Homo sapiens: one gene and its partner. The protein of the gene in region 2 purifies or fractionates together with the protein of the main gene of each other region. This does not show direct contact. Each region holds a gene or a part of one and is shown on either strand. Other genes may lie near its edges.

Region 1 (7,718 bases), on a different chromosome or scaffold from region 2:
AGGTGGACAGATGACTGAGAGTGCAAAAATTACACCACTAAAGAAACACGGAGGCTGGGCGTGGTGGCTCACGCCTGTAATCCCAGCACTTTGGGAGGCCAAGGCGGGTGGATCACCTGAGGTCAGGAGTTCAAGACCAGCCTGACCAACATGATGAAACCCGATCTCTACTAAAAATACAAAAATTGGATGGGTGTGGTGGCAGGCGCCTGTAATCCCAGCTACTTGGGAGGCTGAGGCAGGAGAACTGCTTGAATCTGGGAGGTGGAAGTTGCAGTGAGCCGAGATCACGCCACTGCACTCCAACCTGGTGACAGAGTGAGACTCCAGCTAAAAAAAAAAAAAAAAAAAAAAGAAAGAAATAAAGAAAAAGAAAGAAAGAAAGAAATGCTGAAAGAAATGGGATTCTTTGGCCCAAAAAAGGCAAAGGTAAGAAAAGAACTAATAGCAAGGGTGCCAAACACTGTATTTACTGATAGGTCAAAGTCTTACTGATGACAATAATGACAGTCTGAACTAATATTCCACAAAATATGTATCTAATGAGTTAAATGTGATTCGTGAGACTGCTATTCCTGTCTTAGGCCATAAACTAGACCCTTGAAAGAGAATCACTTGTCGAATATTGTACTATAAGTCTTCAACAGATGTATTTAGGTATGTTCCTTTTTCATTAGGTATGTTCTATTTACTGACATTAACATAAGTTACTAGGAAAGGTGTGCTACTAGTGTGCTGAGGTTCAGCAATATTCAAGTAACTAAAAGGTAATATAAGTTTCATAACCACACACCTTTGCACAGCACCAAATGGGGGGAAATGGGCTTAAATTACAGAATATATGTTACATTCAAGAATGTTCCAAATATGAGATTTTAATTACTCTAACAGAGCACTGGGGGTGAAGGAATTTTCTTCCCAGGACACTTCAATTAGAATGCTCGTCTGGAACTATCTGTATGCTTTCTTAGACCAAGGAGAATGGGTCTGAAACACTCTTCCATGGCTGTGATTCTCTAACTAACCCTCCCAGTTTTCAAGAGTAAGAGAGCTTGCAGCCATTGCTCACTTTTGTTTTGTCTTGAAGGTGGTCAATGTACACAGGACTACAGTTTAAGATAAACTTTAATATCCCAAATTGAAAACTGATTATAACTTTAATTACGAGTTCTTAAAATTACAGAGATAAGGATACATTTCGATTAAGCAGACGAAGTGGGGAAAAGAGGCATAGCTTCCTACTTCTGTGTCCCTTTCAATGAGGCTAGGTACCTCATTATTTCAAAATGCCCAACACTTGAACACTGTAAGTACTCAACAAATGCTTTGCGAAGAAAATATAGTATATTTCATATTAGTTTTGTAACTTTTAAAATACAGAATCGTTGAACACAGAATGTTGAGTCAATTTCAACGTCGCAATTAGTAATGCGAATTTTGAAACTTGTTCTAAATACAATTTTAATCAATCTGAGTTTTTCAGCCTTGAAATTCTAAGGTCCGTATTTCCCAAAGAATATCCTTCCCATAGTGCTAAGCACACACTAAACTGACTCACTAAACTTTCTCCACTCCTACATCACCTATACAGGATTTTAAAATCCGGAGTACACAAACTTTCAAGCCACTTCTACAATCTTGTATTAACCTTAGCAGGACAAACTTTTCGCCAAGACTCTTAACACTTTTTATCCAAAAACCTGTAGTAGTGAAACAAAGAAAACACAACCCCCTCCTCCTTTTCTAAACCATATGGCAATAAATTAAAGTTAACTTATTTCTTACCAGCTCAAAGCCTATACATCGACCCTAAACATTTGTCTCTTTGTGCCCTGGGACTGGGCTTAGAGCTGTCTGCTTATTTGCAACTGTACTCCAATCGTGTTTTAAAATGGCAAAACAAGGTCCAAAACGACCCCCGACCATGAACAGACCTCACCATCGTCATTTTCCAAAACCTGGTCTGGTAGGCAGCACATGCCGGCGAGGGCACCAGGGCCGCGGGGAGCGAGCCCTGCTCCGCCTGGGTGACTGAGCAGGGAGTTTGCTTGCTGCGGCGGGGTCGGATCCACCCCGGGAACTTGGTTACCCGAGCCCAGGGACGCGCCGAGGCCTAGCCGCGAGGCCGGGGCGGGCTCCAGGCGGCGAGGGCTTCCCGTCCCTTGGCCGCAGAGCCTTCCCGCCAGCCCCGCGGTCGCCCGCAGGCGGGGACACTCGCCGTCGTCTCCCGGCGACCGGACGCGCCTGCCGGGTCCCGGGCCGGCTCTTTTGCCTCCTGCTGCCGCCCGCGGCCCGGCTCTGCGACCACACCGGGCTCTTCCGGGGCGGCGGGAGCGCTAGGCCGCGCTGGGGCCCGCGGCTCCTGAACCGGCCGGGCGGGCCTTGGCGTCCGGTATCAGTCCCGAAGGCCGAGCTCCCGCCGGTAACGGGCCCCGCCGCCTCCCCTCCCCCTCCGCCCCATGACAGTGCAAACCCTCCGGCCGCCCGGGCCGCCCCGCCTCCAGCACCAGGCCCAGCTAAGGGCCGCGGCCGTGGCGGCAGCGGCGCCGCGGCTCTCCGCCCTCGCTCGCTCGCTCCCGGGTCCAGCGCCTCGGGCCCGGCTCGGGCTCGGCCAAAGTCTCCGCCGCTTCCCGGCCGCCCTCCGCCGCGCCCGGCCCGGGCGGGGTAGGCCGAGGCCCGGGAGGTGCGGGTGGGGGCGGGGGCTCCTCTCACCTTCATGTCGGGACATCCTAGTTCAGACGGTGGCGGCGCGGCCCCTCCCGGGCTCCGGCTGCAGTGTCCCCCGCGGGGTCCCGGCGCTGCCCGCGCCGGCCGGCCGACTCCCACTCGACTCCCGGGCTCGGCCGCGGGGGCGGGGTGGGCAGGGGAGCGCTCCCGCGGCGGCGGCGGCGGCGGCGGCGGGGAGGCGGCGCGGGGCGGGAATGGGGCCGGGCCTGGTCGGGGCTGAGCTCCTCCAGGAGGCGGGTCCGACGCCGCAGCTCCGCCGGCGCCCGCCGTGACTCCGGTCACTCTCGGGCCTGCCGGCTCCCGGCAGCGGCGCGGCGCTCCGCAAATCCCGCTCCTCCCCTCCCCCGGCCCACCCCCCGCCCCTCTCCCCCGGCTCCCGGCCGCCGCCTCCTCCTCCTCCTCTTCCTCCTCCTCCGCCTCCTTCCGCCGCCCGCACGCCAGCCCCGCCTCTCGCTGCCCTCGCCGGGCCCAGCCGCCCGGAGGCCCCGCGGCCGGCGGTCGCGACGGGGGCGACGCGGCGACGGCGGCTCGGGGCGCGGCGCTTGCCCGCGCTAGCCAGCAGGCCGCGATCGGGCGCCCGTGCCCAGCCTCGGCCTGGCCGCCGCCGCCGCCGCCGCGCCGCGCGTAGGGAGGAAGAGGAAATGCCCGGCGCCGGCTCCCGCTGCTCACCGGCGCGGCCCGAGGGGCGCCCGCCCGCCACGCCGCCCCTAGCCCCGCCTGGGGCGGGCCTAGGCCGGGCTATAGGGGCCAGGGCCTTGGGCTGCGCCGGCCGCGGGAGGTGGGTGCTTCTCGGCGGCGAGCTGCGACTCGGAGAGACTCCTGTCCGCAGGTGCATGGCTTCCGGGCGGGCCTCGGGCAGCGAGCTCCAGCCCCACTGAGAGGCCGCGGACCGCCTGGGGACTTGTGTTTGTGTGTATTTTAAGCCAACAGCCCAGAAAGGGAAGGCGACTGGCCCCCGGTCTTCGCCAGTGTTTCCCGGCCGGGTTACTGGTGGTCAGGAGGGAAGCCAGGAGGCTGCCGGGCTCCGAGGCCGATTCCTTGCGAACCATCTCCGTTAAAGACTCCGCGCCGGGCAGCCCGGGAGTCCGGCGGTACCCGCGCAAACTTTGTCCCAGCGCCTTGGCTCACCGTGAATGCCCTGCCTTGAAAATTTGGAGTTTTTTGTTTCCTGAAAGTGGTCTGCTTTTCCGATTTTATCTGTGTTTTCCATTTTTACCTTCTTATTGTCAATTTGTTTTCAGGCATTATTAATTCAACAAATCTTTGTACTGCCCCTTACCACGTGTCGATGGTTCCGTGGTTTGGTGGAAATAGATCGCGCTTTGAAGTCAAGACGGATCGGCCATGGAATTTTGGCTCTGAGATCCTCTGTGTAACCGTGGATGAGCTACAAGGCCTGCTGAGCCTCCATTTGTCTGGTTTTTGTGGTTGTTTTAATTTATCTTTTTCCATTTGAAGTTGTGGGTTTTGCATAAAATTGAACTGTTACCAGGCTAAGTCAACTGAAATTGGAATCTGGGGTACTGCTTGCTTTGAGGTTACTCTTATACTGTCCACCATTTGCTGGCTGTGTGATCTCTAAACCTCTCTGTGCCCTGACTTTTCTATCTTTAAAATGGACGTAACAACAGAGGTTTAATAATAAGAGGTTTGGAGGTTAAGTGCTAAAATGCATATAAAATACCTAGCACAGGACACAGTAAAAAGATTGTTACCGTATTTCATTGAATCTGGTTTTAAGACACTTCCTGATTTCAAAGAAACTAAAAGCTCATCTTGAAGTCCAGGAAGTAGGTTTTGGGTCACTCAGAACTCCCAAGGGACTGTATTTGGTAGTAACTAGTGATAAACAAACTGGAGTTTAAATGAGGACTTTGTCACCAGAGATATTTTTATTGCCTGTATGGAGCTCCTGCACAAATTTATTCCATTTCTCTTGTAGAAAGAGATCCAACCTGGCCGTAAATGGGGTGTGGTGGAGTAGAAAGAAGGGTATTAAGTAAAGCTCTGTGTCGATGCCTTTCTGAGCATTTTACGGTGTTGGCATATGTGATCCTGGGTATCAGGAGCCTCAATTTCTTGGGCTGTAAAAATGGGGAGAACAACGCTGATCCCATTGTCTCCTGATGGGTAAGTGATGTCTATAAATAAATTGTATAGAGATTAAGGCATTATCAGTGCTGTAGTCTGATAAAATGGTGGAGCAGATAGGAAAGCCTACAACAGTACTGAACTGCAGGAGGGACTAAGAGTAAATATAGAGATTTCATTTGCTTGGTTTTGCAGAGGGTTAGCTAACTAAACAGATAACTTTGTTTTCGACAGTTACTTCATTTTTTTCAGTCAGGCAAGAGTAAGGAGAGAGTAACTAAACCATTTTTTTTCCTCTTTAAATAAGAGTAAGCAGAAATATTATGGTTATTTGGGGTTTTCATGACCTTCATTCACTTAGCGGTCAGGCTGTTCAATTTAAAACAACCTTTTGCTTGCTGCCCTGCCATATGGGAAATTTCATTTCCAAAAAAAGGATTAATTTCCAGCCTGGGCGAAACCCTATCTCTACGGAAAATATAAAAATTAGCGGCCAGGAGCAGTGGCTCATACCTGTAATCCCAGCACTTTGGGAGGCCGAGGCAGGTGGATCACGAGGTCAGGAGTTCAAGATCAGCCTGGCCAAGATGGTGAAACCCCATCTCTACTAAAAATACAAAAATTAGCCTGATGTGGTGGCACGCGCCTGTAATCCCAGCTACTTGGGAGGCTGAGGCAGAGAACTGCTTGAACCTGGGAGCATTCCAGCCTGGATGACAGAGTGAGACTCCGTCTCAAAAAAAAAAAAAAAATTAGCTGGGCGTGGTGGCATCCGCCTTTGGTCCCAAATACTCAGGAGGCTGAGGTGGGAGGATTGCTTGAGCCCAGGAGGTCGAGTCTGCAGTGAGCCGTGATTGTACCACCACATCCTAGTCTGAGTGACAGTGTGACACTCTGTCTCAAAAAAGAAAAGAAGATCAAGAAGGATTAATTTAAATCCTTATACCAAATTGTCTACCAAATGATTTTTGTTCCACTCCAGAAATGTTTTCCTCCAGTCCCTTCCTCTCTCTGCACCCTCCTGAGTTCTCCTTTCTTCTGTGGACAACTGTAACTAATGCGTGTTTTTGCTAGGCTGACCCTTCTTTCATACTATGGCCCAATTATGTTTTTTCAAATAAGCTAATGGATGTAAGCACTGGTGAAATCTGAATAAGGTCTGTAGTCTACTTGATAGTATTGTACCAATGTCAGTTTCCTGGCTTTTGATATTTTTCCATAGCTTTGTAAGATGTTCCCATTTGAGAAAGTGTACCTGGGCCCTCTTTGCAACTACCTATGGGTAAATGATTATTTCAAAGTAAAAAATTAAAGTATAGGGACAGAAATTAGATCAATGGTTACTGGCAACTGGAGCTGGGGAAGGGTGGACTGATCACACTTTTTGAGATGATGAGAATATTCTCTAACTTGATTGTGGTATTTACATTACTGGATGACTCTGTGAATCTGTCAAAACTCATAGAACTATACACCTAAAAGGGTGGTTTTTTTTTTTTTTTTTTTTTTTAGATGAAGTCTCGCTCTTGTCCCCCAGGCTGGAGTGCAATGGTGTGATCTCGGCTCATTGCAACCTCCGCCTCCCGGATTCAAGCGATTCTCCTGCCTCAGCCTCCCAAGTAGCTGGGATTACAGGTGCATACCACCACGCCCGGCTAATTTTTTGTATTTTAAGTAGAGGCGGGGTTTCACCATGTTGGCCAGGCTGGTCTCGAACTCCTGACCTCAAGTGATCTACCCGCCTCGGCCACCCAAAGTGCTGGGATTACAGGCGTGAGCCTCCGCACCCAGCCAAAGGGTGGTTTTTACTTCTATATAAATTATACTTCAGTAAACCTGAATTAAGATAAGGAAAGCAAGCTCTTGGCCGGGTGCAGTGGCTCACGCCTGTAACCCCAGCACTTTGGGAGGCGGAGATGGGCGGATCACGAGGTCAAGAGATCGAGAGCATCCTGGCTAAATGGTGAAACCCTGTCTCTACTAAAAATACAAAAAAATTAGCCAGGCGTGGTGGTGGGCATCTGTAGTCCCAGCTACTTGGGAGGCTGAGGCAGGAGAATGGCGTGAACCCGGGAGGCGGAGCTTGCAGTGAGCCGAGATCGCGTCCAGACCTGGGTGACAGAGCGAGACTCCCTCTCAAAAAAAAAAGAAAAGCAAGCTCTCATCACCCCAGCCTCCTGGGGCTTGTAGGATGAAATGTAACTTTAAGGCCCAACGTGCTTTTCCAGCATACGGACTCTTCCTGCCAGCGCACCCTGGGCTTCCTTGTACTGTATTAATTCCTGCCCCTGTGCCTTTGTGCATACTCTTCCTTCTGCTTAGGTGGAGCATAGGAAAGTAAAGTCAAAATTCGGGTTCCCTGTACTCCTGTAAGCCTTCCCTGCCTCCCTTAGGCAAACCAGTAATTTCCTAACTTCCTCCTCTGCTCACTCATGTCGTGCTGTAATTTTTAATTCGTTTTCATCTTTTTTCTCAACTAGACTCCTCAAAGGCAGCGACCACATTGTTCTTTGTCTCTGGGATCCAGTAGTGTTGAATGAGTGAGTGAATGAACAAATTATTTATTTATTTATTTATTTATTTATTTTTTGAGACAGAGCCTCTCTCTGTCGCACAGGCAGGAGTGCAGTGGTGCGATCTCGGCTCACTGCAACCTCTGCCTCCCGGGTTCAAGTGATTCTCCTGCCTCAGCCTCCTGAGTAGCTGGGACTACAGGAGGGTGCCATGACGCCTGGCTAATTTTTGTATATTTAGTAGAGACGGGGTTTCACCATGTTGCCCAGGCTGGTCTCAAACTGCTGGCCTCAGGTGATCCACCCACCTCAGCCTCCCAAAGTCCTGGGATTACAGCCATGAGCCACCAGGCCCGGCTGTGAATGATGTAGAGCTGAAAGAAAAAC
Region 2 (6,831 bases):
GAGGCTCCCTCCCTCCTTAGCCAGGGTCACTTGTGCCATGCCTCCTCCTCCAGCCCGTGCCCCTCAGGGGAACCCCAGGCTGTCCTGGTGTGATCCCTGCATCCAAGAGCAGCAGGAGAATGTTTTGTCCCAGTGGAAGCAGTTCCCAGACTTAGGCAATTAGTTACCTATTTGTTAATCTTACAATAAGGGGGTTGACTAAGAATGGGAAGTTTTCCCAGAGCCAGGCTTTGCTTGGAGCTCGTCCCCTAGAGCAGGTGCTGCAGCTCAGCAGGGCCTAGGAGCGAGGGCAGTGGGGCTTCTTCTCAGCCTCCACCACTTTTGGGTCTAGGGCAGGGTAGGGAAACCCTGAGAAAAGTACCCACAGACATTGTCACCATTGTCTCCAGGCTCTTTCTCTAGAAGGCAGGGAAGAAGTGGGGAGGAAGACCAGAGAGAAGGTTCTGAAGGCCATGTGGCCCAGGTGCAGGCAGCTGCAATGGTGTCAGAGGGCAGAATCAGGAAACTCAGATTGGCCAGGGGCCTGAAAGTGAACCCCTGGGCTTAATGCCTCACTGGGCTTCCCACTAAGGCACAAGCAGGGCAGCCTGGTACAGCCTGCTGTGGGCTCACTTCCCTTTGTCCCTCGGAATGGCTTTGTCAGCTGCTCCTGTGCCCACACCACACCCCATGCAGCATCCACAGCTGTGGACCTGAGGAAAGCTGATGCCCTGTCTTACGTTGTTCAGCTCCAGGCTTTCTTGAAAAGGGCAGTTGTCAATGTCATCTTCAAATTTCCTACATACGGTTTGGCGCAGTTGCAGATTCATGGAGAACACCATCTTACCTCGCCACTGTTGGACAAAAGAAGATTAAAGTGGATGCACCGTCTTCCTGCCCCTAAGTAGCTACTAGTGAAGATGCCATTTGAGTAGGAGAGGCCCCAACACTTTACTGCATTTGAGAGCTTGCCCATGGGCCTGGCATCAGCTCACTGGAGGTGAAACCCAGGGGATCTTCTCTAGACTGAGGAGTTAAGAGCAAAAAGCAGGTGGGCATGGTGGGTCTGGGGAGGATGCAGGCTGAGTCAGACCCCACTAACACATTATCCACCTCCACCCACCCCCATTTCCCACGGTGAGACTCCAGCTTCACTCTCAGTAGGCATCTGATCTTGCAGCTGCATTCCCAGAGGACAGAGCCACATGTCCGGGAGGGTGTTGGATCTCCAAGAGTTTTCAGGGTAACTTCAGCCCTGGGACAGAGGGAGCCTCATCTACAGTGTGTTGTCAAACCTTCCAAGTGACCTCCAGCAAGAAGAATGACACACAGCGCTCCCACTACACACAGGCACACACCCTGGGAAAATGGGTTCAAGAAATACCATCTGCCCTATTGCAAAGTGCATGCTGAAGTTCTCCTTGCCCTCCTTCCCACTCCATTCTATTTAATTCCACTCCATAGCCTCCCTCTCACCCATCTATTCTTCCCAGCCCCCAAACTGATGCTGGGATTGCCATATCCAGGAAGCCATGTGGAAAGCTTTTAGGACTTACTGTCATTTAGGACTTATAGACCATAGTAAGGAGCTTAGATTTTATTCTAACGGTATTAAGAATGGAGGCTTACACTGAGGTCTTGGAGAATCAAGCAAAGCACTGGGAAAGCAGAAGCATGAGGCCTGGCCAATCTCAATCTCTGAGACTTCCAAGGTTCCAGCATGAATATTAGCAGCCACCATTACTGGACCAGATGCCCCTCTGAGGGTTGCATCAGGCTTTTAATTCTCCTGAGAGGAGGCAGCAAATGAGCAAGGAGGAAAATTCCTCTGTACCAGCATTGGAATCCTGAGGATGGCAGTGAGGAATCCACCCCAGGAGGCAGAGAACCAGCCAGAGCCTTGCACAGAGTCTTTCCAGAGCTTAAGCTCTGTGCGGTACTAGAGTCCCTCTGCCTTTCTTTCAGGCTCTTGGTGCTGAGAAAGGAAGAGCAATGCTCCTTCTCTCTCTAAACCAGAAGTTCTCCACTAGGAGGGCATTTTAATTGTTCATGCCTGAAGCCCAGATGAACTGTGCATTCCTGACCACATTTAATGATTTCATCAAAAAGGCAAGCATTTTAGGATAAAGGTCCATTGAGGAAGAGTGTAAATTGGCCTTCAGTTCATTAAGTGCAGACAGAGCAAGGAGCCCAGAGAAGGTGGAGATCAGAGAACTAACCTTTCACGGTGGCCTCTCAGGGCTGATGGTGTTCTTTATTGCCCTCGAATTCTCACTGTTCTCTCTCTGTCTGCCTGTCTCTCTCTCTCTCTGTCTCTCTCTCTCTGTCTGTCTGTCTCTCTCTGTCTCTCTCTCTCTCTCCCTCTGTGTGTCCTTGCTTTTCCATTTTCATTTTATGACCTGGAAATGTTTATCAGTCTCTTTGGTTATTTTCTCTTCTTGTCAGCTTCATCTCCTTAGAAGTCCTTATTTTGAAGTCACTCTTCAGTTATACAATGTCTTAAAAATCATGAAGATTGAAAAATATATTTTGCATGTGAATAGACATTTACCTAATTTAAAAAAAATTTTAAGTTCAATGTTTTCCAAAACTAAAACTACCGTAATTGGTTGTGGACTACCTGACTATGGACTGCTGATGGTGAACCAAGTCTCCTAGACTAGACATCTTGGTCCCTCACTTAGGGGCAGATGGAGAAGGACAGGCCAGAAGAGGATGTGGTCACCAACCTTTCTGTCCATGCTATCCTCCCTCCATGAACTCAGGACGCGCAACAGCCTGTAGGCATGCTCCTCCTTGCTCTGCACGTTGAAAGTGTTCAAGGCAAACTCCACTGTGGCGAGGAACATAGGATCCTGGACTATTTTATTATTACCACCCATTTCCTCTTCAGAACACCAGGCATAAGTCACCAGGAGCTGGAAGCCCATGAGAAGCAGTGACAGTGCCCAGGGCATAGCCTTCCTCCTCTGCGGACTCGACATGATGCAGGCTCCAGCAGCCCTTGCCTTTGCCCTTCAGATCCCTGGCGTCCACTGGAGCCTTCCAGGGCTCAGGTCTGGCCTTTAAATTCACCTGCTGGGGCAGAAACTCCTCCCTCCAGGCCTCACCTCTGCAGTTACACCCTGTCTCTCCCACACATGGCCTCCCTTCTTCCAAAGGCGTTTAAATCATCTCCTGTTTAGGGGAGAGGAACAGCACCCAGGCAGGTGGGTTGGAAAAGACTAGCAATGGGAGAGATAGTGCCCTGAACATGAGGCCCAGCCCCAGCTGCCCCAGCACCTCCGCAGGCTAAAGGAGACCTCTACTGGGCGCCCCAGAGTCAGAGCCCGGCACAGGAACACAAGTGTGAGAGGTATGAGTGGAAGGTGAGCCCTGGACTCAGCAGTGGGGGTGGGCTGGGAGGGGGAGGTTAGGTGGAAAGGCAGAGACAAAAGGATGGAAAGGGATGACAGTGGATGCTAGTATCATGGGTGAGCAGGTACAGCGCCCCGAGAAAGCACTGGGCCTCTTGAGAGAGAGGCGGGGAGCCCGGGAGGATTGGCGGGATGTCCTGCAGGTGTCTGCTCCCCCGAGGGTCTCGGGAGGGGGGCACCAGCCTGGGGGTCGTGGGCAGAGGTTGAGGAAATCAAGAGCAGGAGCCCCCAACCCTGTTCTCTGCACCTCCCTAAATGCAGCTTCCCAGCCCAGGGACGCGCTGCCAAGTGCTGGTACTAGGGGCCTGGCTAGTTATGGCTGCCCCTATTCCTCAAAGGTGTTTCCAGGACGGGTGGCCGCTTGCAATTGGAGCAGTGGAGAACCAGAAAGACGAAGATGCCCTCAGGGATGGCTGAAGTGCACCCATTAGGTTGTCACGGGTTCCCTCCTGTGGCCACAGCCGGCACAGCACTCTGCGGCACAGTTTGTGGGTGGAGATTCTGAGTTCTCGACCAAGACCCACATAGCCTCCAACTCCAACCGCAAATGGGGCTCTCAAAAGACTGAATAATGCACTCTTCACAGACCAGACTTAAGCTTTGTCCCTGTGAAATATGCCTTTGATGTTTATCCGTAGCTCCTTGTAAACTTCAGAAGCAACCAGCATCCCCTGATGTCACGTTAAAAAGCAAGTTCCTAGTTTCCCCACCCAAAGATTCTGACCCAGTAGCTGTGAGCAGGGCCAGGGAAACTACATTTCTCACCAGCTTCCAGAGGATGGTTGTGTTCCCGGTCTCAGAACCATACTTTGAGTGGTGCAGGTTCAGAATACTTCCTGGGAAGTGCATACAGACCAAACCACATATGAGAAGTAACTCAGCTTGAGGGGCATGGAGGTCAGGGGATGAGAATGGCTTTTGTGGGGCACACAGGATGGGGGACAGGCTTAGACAGCATGCCTGGTGATAAAGAATAAGAGTTTGTTTCTAGACCCTGTTTGCAAAGAAAAAGCAACTCAATGTGACAATTCCAGGAAAGCAGCCAGATGTGCCAAAAACATCACCCAAGGAGTCTGTATCCTTTCTCTGATGGCGTTGAGTTCACTGGAACTGCAGCTGAAGCGTAACTAATGTGGTTTCTTAGCTGGAGAGTGATGGTGCACGTAGGGGTAGGAAGGGGGTGTCAGTGAGGGCGGAAATGCCTTTGTGGGTTTTGGGATGAGCAGGCCATAAGGTGCTGTGAGAACTAGAATCCTGATGCCTGGAATAGGTTGCGAGTGTCCTGAGAGAGGCCTGCAATGCCCATGGAGGTCACTCTCACCTTGTAAGTTCAGCGGCTGACAAACTTGGGGCATCCTGCCAATTGCCAGTGGCTCCCCCACCATTCTGAGGGCCGATACCCACATGTGCTCCAAGGGAGTGCCCACACTCACTCTTACATGAGCAGTGGTTTAGGGTCCTGGGCACCAGCTCTGTCCTCACTGTGCAGCCAAGGAGGGGACAGGGATCCCCACACCCAGATGTGAGACCACGGGTGTACAGACACCATGGACCCTTACAAGTGTGTCTATTTTCTTGTTGAATCCCCAGTGGCCTGGGATGGCCTCACTTCCCAGGTGGAGAGAGACGGGAATATCAAGACATAGCCAGGTAAAGAGAAATACATGTGGGCTCCAGGCTGAGGAGCCCCGAAGACGTGGGTCAACATGTTGCCGAGGCCAGAGTGAAACCGGACGGCCCGGAGGGGCTGGCTGGCCAGCCCACAGGCACAGCTCACAGCTCTCTGCAGGGCTATCCCCAGGTCTCAGGTCTGGGAGGCTTTCTCTCCTGAGTCCCCTTGCAAGAGTTCTGTCTCACTCAGCTTCTTCCTGGGCACTCGTTGGCCTGTCTGTCTCTGGGGCCACCGGGACTTGTCTGGTGCTCTCTTTGTGTTGCTGGCACTGGCACCGAACACCCATGTGGTCTCATAGGAAGGTCCCAGTAACTCCTCACTGAAATGGACCTGCTTTTCCAGAAACGAGGCCCTGTATTTCTGAACGCATTCCTTTGAATGATTAGAGAATGCTGGCAACGACCAGGACCAAGCCACTGGCCCTTTTCTGTGAAGCTGAACATGAGGCGGTGGACGAGGGGAAGCCCAGTGACTCTTCGGGACACAGGACGCTCTCCCCAGCTCCCGCAGACCCTCCAGCTGAGTGCTCTCCCCGGGGTCGGACTCATGTCCCTCACTGCCCGGCCTACTCAGCCACATGCTCTAAAGGTCCCGTGCGACCTTGCTCACTGCCTGTTTCAAGCTGGGCCAGGCTCAGCGGGGCCTGCCAGTTTCAGGATCGCCTGCTGGGCTTTGGGATCACTTCCTCGGGACCCTCCCCATTCCCCCTGCTTGGCATTTCCCTAGGAGACTCCCCAGACAAGCCAGCATTCCCAGGGGTTTCCGTGTGCTGGAAAACAAGGTGGTGTCCAGGAGATCAAAGGAAGACAGCAGGGGCAGGGAGAAGCCCGGACTCAGAGCAGAGTGAGTGATCCAGTGATTGCTGTCATAGCAATCATCAAAGGGGCAGCTCGGGGCAGGGGGGTGAGCGGGGCTGGGTGGGGGTGCTGCCAGGGAATTCCAGAGCCCCCTCCACTCCTCCCTCCCCTCCTCCAGGTTTTCCACCTGGGGGGTTCTTCTTAGCTCAGTCTTCAGCTGACTTTGAGTTTTTATAATTTAAGGAATTAATCTCATATAGACTTATGGCAAATTTAAACTGAGAAAGAGGAATAATGATTGAATTAAAAAATGACAAAAGGAGAAATAAAAATACAAACATTACCGGTAAATATAGAGGCCTAAATCAGGGGTCATTCGTACCACATGCAAATCGGAAGGCCCATGGGCTGTTTCTTCTCCTTCCTGTGGGTCCAGCAGGTCCCTCACCCTGGCTAAGTCGGGGGTGCTGCCCTGGGCCCAGGAGCTTTGCTCTGAAGAGGAAGTGCTGCCCCAGTCACCCTCAGCAGCCCTCCTGTTTGCTGGCCTTTGCCGAACACACCTGCCTTCGCTCCTCAGTGGGCGTTTCCTCAGCTTCTGCTGTGCTCCCGACGGAAGCCTCTCCCATCCAACGCAGCCCATTGTTTTCTTTCATAAGTACTTTAGTTTTTAAAAAACTGTAAGTTAATTTAAATTTAAAACAGTACAAAAATGTCATAATACCACTTCTTTTTTATTTTTAAAATTTTCTGTAGAGATGGAGTCTCACTATGTTGCCCAAGATGTTCTCGAACTCCTGGCCTCAAGTGATCCTCATGCCTCAGCCTACAATTCCACTTTTACTAAGTGAAATGTAGGTTTCAACATAATAGAAACTCCAAATACCAGTGGCTTAAACAAGCTGGTGTTGCTTTCTCTCTCAGGATGCTGACAATGCTAGAATTCTTTCATAAGCCTCACTCCTGCTGG

Evidence for each region.
Region 1: the proteins of CST9 (region 2) and KCMF1 purify together in Homo sapiens (affinity purification with mass spectrometry; 3 studies listed by BioGRID and IntAct, with this or other methods). This does not show direct contact.

Annotation. Positions count from the first base shown.
Region 1 is NC_000002.12:84,966,462-84,974,179, reverse strand, and holds the start of KCMF1 (E3 ubiquitin-protein ligase KCMF1), read right to left. Parts: upstream 3,020-7,718; 5' UTR 2,729-3,019; coding exon 2,713-2,728; intron 2,330-2,712; exon of another isoform or gene 1,980-2,329; coding exon of another isoform or gene 1,940-1,979; intron 1-1,939. UniProt on the Homo sapiens protein: E3 ubiquitin-protein ligase which accepts ubiquitin from an E2 ubiquitin-conjugating enzyme and then transfers it to targeted substrates, promoting their degradation by the proteasome.
Region 2 is NC_000020.11:23,602,902-23,609,732, forward strand, and holds the start of CST9 (cystatin-9 precursor), read right to left. Parts: upstream 3,017-6,831; 5' UTR 2,964-3,016; coding exon 2,709-2,963; intron 834-2,708; coding exon 609-833; 3' UTR 1-608. UniProt on the Homo sapiens protein: May be involved in testis development. May play a role in hematopoietic differentiation or inflammation. Has immunomodulatory and antimicrobial functions against Francisella tularensis, a Gram-negative bacteria.